Linked DNA regions of Homo sapiens: region 1 is linked to region 2. A link means that fine-mapping ties the variant in region 2 to the expression of a gene that starts in the linked region. Tissue or cell type: lymphoblastoid cells. Region 2 holds a variant in brackets; the other region holds the start of a gene. All regions are shown on one strand. Distances are between the middles of the regions.

What was found. PIP is the estimated chance that this variant, and not a neighbour inherited with it, causes the effect.
Region 1: FAIM starts here. The variant in region 2 is fine-mapped to the expression of FAIM in lymphoblastoid cells (TwinsUK, PIP 0.95).

Annotation. Positions count from the first base shown.
Region 1 is chr3:138,606,224-138,611,864 of GRCh38, reverse strand. FAIM (Fas apoptotic inhibitory molecule) reads right to left here and starts at 3,094. Exons shown (of 6, transcript NM_001033031.2): 1 at 2,928-3,094. RefSeq lists an enhancer at 2,357-2,446 and a silencer at 2,547-3,006.
Region 2 is chr3:138,551,072-138,556,712 of GRCh38, reverse strand. All of the region lies in intron 6 of CEP70 (centrosomal protein 70), which reads left to right. Among named protein-coding and RNA genes, the nearest start is that of CEP70, 40 kb to the left of the region's middle. The variant C/TC (reference allele first, on the strand shown) is at 2,513.

The DNA.
Region 1 (5,641 bases), 55 kb before region 2:
GCATCTGCATTTGGTGAGGGCCTCAAGTTGCTTCTACTCATGGCAGAAGGCAAAGGAGAGCTGGCTGTGTAGAGAGCATGTGACCAGAGAGAAAGCAGGAGAGACAGCGGGGAGGTACAAGCTCTTTTTATCAAACAGCTCTAGTGAGAACTGATAGAGCAAAAACCCATTCACCTCCAAGGGAGGGCATTAATGTATTCACTGGGGATCAGCCCCCATGACCCAAACACCTCCCATTAGGCCCCACTTCCCAATACTGCCACACTGGGGATCAAATTTCAACATGAGATTTGGTAAGTACAAATATCCAAACCATAGCACAGAGTTATTGCTTAATGGTTACTGTGTTTCTGTTTAAGGTATTGAAAAGTTTGGCAAATAGATAGTGACAATGATCGCACACTATTGTGAATGTACTTAATGCCCCTGAATTGTACACTAAAAAATTGTTAAAATGGCAAATCTATGTTGTATATATTTTACCACTTCAAAAAGTTAATTATATTAGAAAGAATTGTATACTTTAAATGGGTGAATTTTATGGTATGTGAGTTATATTTCAGTAACGTTGTTAAAAAAAAAAACAAAAAAAGAAAAAAAAATGCAGGTGTCCTGGCTGTAGTGTTTCTTGGGATGCAACTGCACCTGTAACCAAAAGATGATAACATCTGTCCTTGTCCCCAATTTCCACTTCACTCAGAAATATCTGTCACATAGATCTCTAAGTTACAAATTCAATTTAATAAACACATGTCATATTCTAAGTTCATCCAGCATACCAATAGTTATTGGGTACTTATGTACCAGGCTCTGGGCAGGGCACTAACCTCAGAGTGGCAGAGTCCGGAGATACCAAGAGATGATTATAGCACAACAGTGGGAGTGTCCTTATAAAGGGAAGCAGCATAGGATAGAATGGGCCATAGAGGAAGGGTCGTAGCTCTGCCGAAGAAGGCTTTGGTTTAAAACTTTGGAGAAAGTGGCCAGGCGCGATGGCTCACACCCCGTAATCCCAGCACTTTGGGAGGTCAAGGCGGTCGGATCACTTGAGGTCAATAGTTCAAGACCAGCCTGGACAAAACGGTGAAATCCTGTCTTTGCAAAAATAGAAAAATTTGCCGGGCATGGTAGCGCACGTCTGTAAATCCCAGCTACTCCGGAGGCTGAGGCACAAGAATCGCTTGAACCCGGGAGGTGGAGGTTGCAGTGAGCCGAGATCATGCCACTGCACTCCAGCCTGGGTGACAGAGGGAGATTCTGTCTGAAAAATAAAAAAATGAAACTTGGGAGCAAGAAATTAATCCACTGTTGTTTTTAAACTCTTATGCATGTACTTAATTTTCAAGATTCTATGACCAAACTGGAAAATGATAAATACAAAAAACCCTCTATTTTTGCAAATATTTTATTAAAATGTAAATTTAAAAAGATGAAAAACCATATTCCACTTACTTTCACTGATGGAGATGATACCAAGCACTTGAAACTTTTTACATGTCTTTAAAGAAAGCTTTTTGCGTATCTCATACGTACCCATCAATCTTTTAAAATCCCTTCCCTAGCAACCCAACACCTAAGTTTCAGAGCATGACTTAAACACCAACACGTTGCCACTGTTCATCTAATCCACCTGAATTTTGCCTTAACTTAGGTTTATTCTTACTGGGGACTGAAATGGTTCGTTCAAGATAAACCGAAGTCAGTTTAAAAATTACTAGATGATAGTAGTTACTAAGATGCTCATGGTTCCCTTTTCAGCAAAGGCCCCCAGGTAGGGCCAGCCAATAATGCAAGTCACACTCAAGTGTTGACATCTTCATCTCCGGGCCGGCCCCTTATGAAGTGAGGGGGGTCTCCAGTAAAATCACTCAGGAAGCTCCTCGAGCCAAGTATTCCCAAATGCTACTTACTGGAGGTACAAAAAGGAGAATAACTTTTCTGAGGGCCATTTCACAATCTATACCAGAAGCCTTGTGGTATAGACCGTGGATTCTATCTTGTTTTAGAACGAATCTTGTGCGATTCTTTCTACAGAAATGATCACGCTCAAAAACCCAGATACAACGATGCTCAATGAATTACTTTTTGCAATAACTAAAAACTGAAAACCACTTGTACGCTCACCATCAGGGAGAAACTACATTTAGTAAATCACAGTCCAAAGCCATGCCAAGAGTCAGGGATGGATGAGGTAGTCAACCTGACACACAGGAATGTACAGTCGAGAGAGAGAGAGAGAGAGAGAGAGAGTCGAGAGAGAGAGAGAGAGAGTCGAGAGAGAGAGAGTCGAGAGAGAGAGAGAGAGAGAGAGAGAGAGAGAGAGAGAGAGAGTTTCAGCACTTTATGATGCAGGTTCTGCAAAAACAAGCCCCGCTCATGTTACAAGGAAAAACCATCTGGAAGAATATACACCCTCATGTTAACGCAGCTTGTCTCTGGGGAGCAGCGGCACGGCTGCTTTGCTTGCTTCCTTGCTTTCTGTTCCACGTTTTCGACAGTGAGAAGTATTATCTTTAGAGGTCGCGAACAGGCCGGAGGAGGGTGCGGCAGGTCGCGGGGCAGGGCCTCGCTAGGCAGGGACGCCCCCGCACCGCCCCGGGCTGGCCCCGCGCCCCGCGCCCCGCCGCACCTCCACCTTTGCCGGCGGTGAGCGGGAGCCGCGTCCCGCCCCGAGGTCTGGGATCACCGGCGGGCCGGCTGGAAGCGTCCGGAACTCACCCAGCGTCTCACCCGCGCGGGTCTCACCGACCGCGCAAACACCGCCCGCCGCCGCCGCCCAGAGATGGCCGCCGCCGGCGCAGCAGGGCCGAGAGCGTGGGGACGCCGGGGGGCTGAGTGCAGGGGTTTCCAGGGTGCGGAGCGGGCGGGCCCGAGGCGTCCGGGCGGGCGCAGGCGCGACACCGACCCCACCCGGTCTGCTGCCTCACCTGTGCTCTGTGGGCCGCGGGAGGCTCTGGGGTAGGTTTCACCAAACAACCGGTTGGTTCCGACTCGGCTGCGTAGGCCGCGTGGCCTTGCTCCCCTGGCCGAGAAACAGGCGCAGCCGGCGCGGAGGTTGAAAGCTCTGCAGGCGCGAGTACCAAACGCGCCGACTGTTTGTCGCGCCTCTCAGGTCCCCTGGGGCGACCAGCGCAGGAGGCCACCCCTCCCGCCGCCACGGACCCAACCCTGGTCCTCTGCCTTAGCCGAAGGCCGCACCCTCCGCGCATAGGCCTTCCTCAGCCCCAACCCAGGACATCACCATGTCCCGCAGTGCGTCCAGTCTTCCTGCCAGCAAGTGTGGGTAGGAGCCGGCCGCTGGCCCCGCTCTGGGCTAGACGGTGGGGACATACTGGCGGGCAAAAACAGCCCTGTGCCTGCTCTGCAGCTATGGGGAAGGAATATCTGTTCATGGCAGCAATAGCATTCGCTCCTTAAAACCTCTTTATGAGTCTCATTCCTTTTTTAAAGACCCAAACTACTTAAGGTGGGCATGAAGCCCCCATGTGTGATCTAGCCTCTGCCTGCTTGGCTTCATTTAGGTCCTTAAAGGATGCAGGTTTCTTCTCGCCCAGGGCCTCTGCAAATGCTCTTCTCTCTGCCTGGACACTCCTCACCTCTTCCCTATTGTGAGAGTTCTTCATATATCATTTCTTAGATTACACTATCCTGGCCCATAAGACTTGCAGCATTGCTGGGTGTGGTGGCTCATACCTGTAATCACGGCATTTTGGGAGGCAGAGTGGCGGATCTCTTGAGTCCAGGAGTTCAAGACCAGCCTGGGCAACATGGTAAAAAAAAAAAAAAAGAGAGAGAGAGAATGAGAAAGAAGAAAAGAAAATAATTAGCGGCTCAGGCCTGTAATCCTAGCTACTTGGGACGCTGAGGTGGGAGAATTGCTTGGGCCCTGAAGGGAGGTAGAGGCTGCAGAGAGCTGTGATTGCACCACTACACTCCAGCCTGGGCAACAGAGCGAGACCCTGTTTCATTAAAAAAAACACACACAAAAAGAAACAGCCGGGCTCAGTGGCTCACGCCTGTAATCCCAGCACTTTGGGATGCTGAGGCAGGCATGGCAAAACCCCGTCACTACTGAAAATATAAAACTTAGAGGGGCGTGGTGGTGCATGCCTGTAGTCCCAACTACTTGGGAGGCTGAGGCAGGAGAATCGCTTCAACCTGGGAGGTGGAGGTTGGAGTGAGCTGAGATTGAGCCACTGCACTCCAGCCTGGGCGAAGAGCAAGACTCTGTCTCAAAAAAAAAAAAAAAAAAAAACAGCCGGGCACAGTGGCTTACACCTGTAATCCCAGCACTCTGGGAGGCCAGGTGCGGATTGCCTGAGGTCAGAAGTTTGAGACCAGCCTGGCCAACGTGGTGAAACCCTAGCTCTACTAAAAATACAAAAATTAGCCGGGCGTGGTGGCATGCGTCTGTAATCCCAGCTACTCAGGAGGCTGAGGCAGGAGAATCACTTGACCTTGGGAGGTGGCAGTTGCAGCGAACTGAGATCGCCTCACTGTACTGCAGCCTGAGCCACAGAGTGATACTTCGTCTCAAAAACAAAAACAAAAAAAACACAAAAATTGCAGCACCAGGGATTCTTCTTCCTAGCCCCTTTCAGGGTGTGCAATAATTTGTGTAATTTTTGCTTAATGTGTAACTTAACAGTAGACTGAGATCCATGAAGGCAGAGACCATGGCCGCTTGGCTCTCATTCTTGTATGTCTCACATCTGTACCGTGCAGGCCCATGTTAGCTCTGGTAAATATTTATTAAATGAATGAATGAATGAAGAGCAGGCCTGGGTAGTGTCTTAGGTGGCCTTGATTTTCAATTTAAGGAGGAGACAGTGTTGCCTACAGAGAGCGAGAAAAGTTGTTGAGTGGGCCATGTGAGGAGCAGTGAATGGTCCCTGTGGAGAGTAGGCCCAGTCATAGAATAGAGATAAGTGAAGGGATTTTGGAGGGTTTTGAGGGCCCAGCATATTTGGGGGCTGCTATGGTTTGGATGCTGGTATCTCCCCAAAATTCATATGTTGAAACCTAAGACCCAACACATTCATATTAACAGGATGGATCCTTTGTGGGGGAAATTGGTGCCCTTGTGAAAGAGGCTTGAGGGAGCCTGTTTGATCCTTCTGCCATGTGTGGATGCTCTGAGAAGGCACCATGTTTGAAGCAGAGAACAAGCCCTTAGCAGACTGTGACTCTGCTGGAGCCTTGATCTTGGATATCCCAGCCTCCAGAACTGTGAGCAATACAATTCTACTGTTTATAAATTACCCAGTCTAAGTTGTTGTATTTTTGTTGTTTTTTTTTTTTTTTTTTTTTGAGACAGGGTTTTATTCCAGGCTGGAGTGCAGTGGCATGATCACAGCTCACTGCAGCCATGATCCATGTCCTGGGCTCAAGCGATCCTGCTACCTCAGCCTCTAAAGGAGCTGGGACTATGGCTACATGCCACCACACCCGGCTAATATTTTAAAATTTTTTTATAGACACAGGGTCCCACTATGTTGCCCAGGCTGGTCTCAAATTCCTGGGCTCAAGCAATTCTCCAACCTTGGCCTTCCAAAGTGCTGGGATTACAGGCATGAGCAACTGAACCTAGCCTTTCTCCTGCTCCTCCTCCTTCCTCCTTCTTGCTTCTTTCTTCTTCTTC
Region 2 (5,641 bases):
GGAGGCATCACGGAACCTACCGACGTGATGTCTCCCCCGGACGCCCAGCTTTAAAATTTCTCTCTTTTGTACTCTGTCCCTTTATTTCTCAACCCGGACGATGCTTAGGGAAAATAGAAAAGAACTTACGTGACTGTCGGGGGCAGGTTCCTTGATAATTCTTTTTTTTTTTTTTTTTTTTTTTTGAGACAGAGTCTCACTCTGTCACCCAGGCTGGAGTGCAGTGGCACAATCTAAGCTCACCACAACCTCTGCCTCCCGGGTTCAAGCAATTCTCCTGCATCAGCCTCCTGAGTAGCTGGGACTACAGGCTCCCACCACCATGCCCAGCTAATTTTTGTATTTTTAGTAGAGATGGGGTTTCACCATATTGGCCAGGATGGTCTTGATCTCCTGACCTCATGATCCACCCACCTTAGCCTCCGAAAGTGTTGGGATTACAGGCGTGAGCCACCGTGCCCGGCCCGTTGTATCTTTCTCATGCCTTTGCATTGTCATAGCTTAGCTCCCACTTATAAGTGAGAACATATGTTCAGTTTTCCATTCCTGAGTTACTTCACTTAGAATAATAGTCTACAATCCTGTCCAGATTGCTGCGAATGCCATTGATTCATTCATTTTTATGGCTGAGTAGTATTCCATCGTGTATGTATACCACAGTTTCTTTATCCACTTGTTGATTGATGGGCATTTCAGCTGCTTCCACATTTTTGCAATTGTGAATTGTGCTTTTGTATAATGTTATACATTATATGAATTGTACATTTGTGTAATGACTTCTTTTCCTCTGGGTAGATACCCAGTAGTGGGATTGTTGGATCAAATGGTAGTTCTACTTTTAGTTCTTTAATGAATCTCCACACTGTTTTCCATAGTGGTTGTACTAGTTTACATTCCCACCAGCAGTGTAGAAGTTTTCCCTTTTCACCACATCCACACCAACATCTACTGTTTTTTGATTTTTTGATAATGGGCATTCTTGTGGGAGTGAGGTGGTATCACATTGTGGTTTTGATCTGCATTTCCCTGACCATTGGTGTTGTTGAGCATGTTTTCATGTGTTTGTTGGCCATTTGTATATCTTCTTTTCAGAATTCTCTATTCATATCCTTAGCTCACTTTTTGATGGGATTATTTGTTTTTTCTTGCTAATTTGTTTGAGTTTCTTGTAGATTCTGGATATTAGTCCTTTGTCGGATGTATAGATTGTGATGATTTTTTCCCACTCTGTGGGTTGTTTGCTGACTGTTCCTTTTGCTGTGCAAAAGCTCTTTAGTTTAATTAAGTCCCACCTATTTATCTTTGTGTTTCATTTGCTTTTGAGTTCTTGGTCATGAAATCTTTGCCTAATCCAATGTCTAGAAGGGTTTTTCTGATACTATATTCTAGAATTTTTATGGTTTAGGTCTTAGATTTAAGTCATTTAAGTCCTTGATCCATCTTGAGTTGATTTTTTTTTTTTTTGAGATGGAGTCTCAATCTGTCACCCAGACTGGAGTGCGATGGCATACTCTTGGCTCACTGCAACCTCCCCCTACTGGGTAGAAGTGATTCTCCTGCCTCAGCCTTCCGAGTAGGTGGGATTACAGGTGCCTGCCACCATGACCAGCTAATTTATGTATTTTTAGTAGAGACAGGGTTTCACAATGTTCGCCAGGCTGGTCTTGAACTCCTGACCTCAGATGATCTACCCGCCTCCCAGAGTGCTGGGATTACAGGCATGAACCACTGTGTCTGGCCTTGAGTTGATTTTTGCATAAGGTCAGAGATGAGGATCAAGTTTCATTCTTCTACATGTGGCGTGCCAATTATCCCAGCACCATTTGCACAGCAAAAGGAACAGTCAGCAAACAACCCACAGAGTGGGAAAAAATCATCACAATCTATACATCCGACAAAGGACTAATATCCAGAATCTACAAGAAACTCATTTGCTGAAGAGGTCTTTCACCTCCTTGGTTAGGTATATTCTTAAGTACTTTATTTTATTTTTACAGTAAAAGGGATTGAGTTATTGATTAGATTCTCAGCTTGGTCACTGTTGGTGTATAGCAGAGATACTGATTTATGTACATTAATTTTGTATCCTGAAACTTTGCTAAATTCATTTATCAGTTCTGGGAGCTTTTTAGAAAACTCTAAGGAGTTTTCTAGGTATACAGTCATATTGCCAGTGAACAGCAGTAGTTCGACTTCCTCTTTACTGATTTGGGTGCCCTTTATTTCTTTCTCTTGTCTGATTGCTCTGACTAGAACTTCCAGTATTACTGTTGAATAGAAGTGGTGAGAGTAGGCATCCTCATCTTGTTCTAGTTCTCAATAGAAGTGGTGAGAGTAGGCATCCTTATCTTGTTCCAGTTCTCAAAGGGAATGCTTTCATAATACTTTTCCAGTATTATGTTGGCTGTGGATTTATCATAGATGGCTTTTATTACTTTGAGGTATGTCCCTTGTATGCTGATTCTGCTGAGGGTTCTAATGACAAAAGGATGCTGGATTTTTTTTTTTTTTT[C/TC]ATATGGAGTCTCACTCTGTTGTCCAGGCTAGAGTGCGGTGGCATGATCTTGGCTCACTGAAATCTCCGCCTCCCAGGTTCAGGCGATTCTCCTGCCTCAGTCTCCTGAGTAGCTGGGATTACAGGCATGCACCACCATGCCTGGCTATTTTTTGTATTTTTAGTAGAGACAGGGTTTCATTCACCATGTTGGCCAGGCTAGTCTTGAACTACTGACCTCAGGTGATCCACCCACCTCAGCCTCCCAAAGTGTTGGGATTACAGGTGTGAGCCACCATGCCTGGCCTGGATTTTGTTAAATGCTTTTTCTGAGTTTATCGAGATGATCATGTGATTTTTATTTTTAATTCTGTTTATATGGTGTATCACATTTATTGACTTTTGTATGTTAAACTATCCCTGCATACCTGGTATAAGACCCACTTGATCATGGTGGATTATCTTTTTGATATGCTGTTGAATTCATTTAGCTCATATTTTGTTAAGGATTTTTGCATCTATGTTCATCAGGGATATTTGTCTGTAGTTTTCTTTTTTTGTTATATCTTTTCCTAGTTTTGGTATTAGGGTGATACTTTCTTTATAGAATGATTTAGGGAGGATTCCCTCTTTCTCTGTCTTTTGGAATAGTGTCAATAGGATTGACACCAATTCTTTGAATGTCTGGTAGAATTCAGCTGTCAATCTGTCTAGTCCTGGATTTTTTTTTTTTTGTCTTTTTGAGATGGAGTCTCTCTCTGTCGCCAAGGCTGGAGTGCAGTGGCCCAATCTCAGCTCACTGCAAGCTCCACCTTCAGGGTTCACACCATTCTCCTGCCTCAGCCTCCCAAGTAGCTGGGACTATAGGCACCCGCTGCCACGCCCAGCTAATTTTTTTGTATTTTTAGTAGACACGGGGTTTCACCGTGTTAGCCAGGATGGTCTCGATCTCCTGACCTCGTGATCCACCCACCTTGGCCTCCCAAAGTGCTAGGATTACAGGCGTGAGCCATCGTGCCCAGCCGGTATTTTTTTTTTTGAAGGCAGTATTTCGTTCTCACTGCTTGTTATTGGTCTGTCTAGGGTTTCGAATTCTTCCTGATTTAAACTAGGAGTTGTGTCTTTTTAGGAATTTACCCATCTCCTCTAGGTTTTCTAGTTTATGTGCGTAAAAGTTTTGATAGTAGCCTTGAATGATCTTTTGTATTTCTGTGGTGTCAGTTGTAATATCTCCCGCTTCATTTCTAATTCAGCTTATTTGAATCTTCTCTCTTCTCTTGGTTCATCTTGCTAGTGGTCTATCAATTTTATTTATCTTTTCAAGGAACCAGCTTTTTGTTTCATTTATCTTTTGTATTTTTGTTTGATTGTTTCAGTTTCATTTAGCTCTGCTCTGATCTTGGTTATTTCCTTTCTTCTGCTGGGTTTGGGTCAGGTTTGTTCTTGTTTCTCTAGTTCCTTGAGGTGTGACCTTAGATTGTCTAGTTGTGTTCTTTCAGACTTTTTGGTGTAAGCATTTAAGGTGGTGAATTTTCCTCTTAGCACCACCTTTACTGTATCCCAGAGGTTTTGATAGGTTATGTCACTATTATCTCTCGGTTCAAAGAATTTTTGAACTTCCATCTTGATTTTATTGTTGACCCAATGATCATTCAGGAGCAGGTTATTTAATTTCCATGTATTTGCATGGCTTTGAAGGTACCTTTTGGAGTTGATTTTCAGTTTTATTCCACTGTGGTCTGAGAGAGTAATTGATATAATTTCAATTTTCTTAAATTTTTTGAGACTTGTTTTGTGGCCTATCATATGGTCTATCTTGGAGATAGTTCCATATGCTGATGAATAGAATGTATATTCTACAGTTGTTGGGTAGAATGTGTTGTAAATATCTGTTAAGTTTATTTGTTCCGGGGTATAGTTTAAATCCATTGTTTCTTTGTTGATTTTCTGTCTTGATGACCTGTCTAGTGCTGTCAGTGGAGTATTGAAGTCCCCCACTATTATTGTGTTGCTGTCTATCTCATTACTTAGGTCTAGTAGTAGTTGTTTCATAAATTTGGGAACACCAGGGTTAGGTACATATATATTTAGGATTGTGATATTTTCCTGTTGGACAAGGCTTTCTATCATTATATAATGTCCCTGTTTGTCTGTTTTTTAACTGCTGTTGCTTTAAAGTTTGTTTTGTTTGGTATAAGAATAGCTACTCCTACTCGCTTTTGTCCATTTGCATGGAATGTCTTTTTTCACCCCTTTACCTGACATTTATGTAAGTCCTTATATGTTAGTTGAGTGTCTTGAAGGCAACAGATGATTGGTGAATTCTTATCCATTGTGCAATTCTATATCTTTTAAGTGGAGCATTTAGGCAATTTACATTCAACATCAGTATCAAGATGTGAGGTACTATTCCATTCATCATGCTATTTTTTGCCTGTATACTTTGGGTTTTGTTTTATTTTATTTTTTTTTTTTTAGATGGAGTTTCACTCTTGTCACCCAGGCTGGAGTGCAGTGGCGGGATATCGGCTCACTGCAACCTCTGCCTCCTGGGTTCAAGTGATTCTCCTGCCTCAGCCTCCTGAGTAGCTGGAACTACAGACACACGCCAACATGCCTGGTGAATTTTTGTATTTTTAGTAGAGACGGGGTTTCACTATGTTGGCCAGGCTGATCTTGAACTCCTGACCTCAGGTGATCCACCTGCCTCGTTCTCCCAAAGTGCTGGGATTACAGGCATGAACCACTGCACCCAGCCAGATTTTTTTAATTGTATTTTTGTTTTATAGGTCCTGTGACATTTATGCTTTGAAAAGGTTCTGTTTTGATGTGTTTTCAGGATTTGTTTAAAGATTTAGAGCTCTTTTAGTAGTTCTTGTATTGCTGGCTTGTTAGTGGTGAATTCTCTCAGCATTTGTTTGTCTGAAAAAGACTATCTTTCCTTTGTGAAGCTTAGTTTCTCTGGATACAAAATTCTTGGCTGATAATTGTTTTGTTTAAGGAGGCTAAATATACGGCTCCAATCCCTTCTAGCTTATAGTTTTCTGCTGAGAAATCTGCTGTTAATCTTATAGGTTTTCCTTTATAGGTTACCTGGTGCTTTTGCCTCACAGCTCTTAAGATTCTTTCCTTTGTCTTGACTTTAAATAA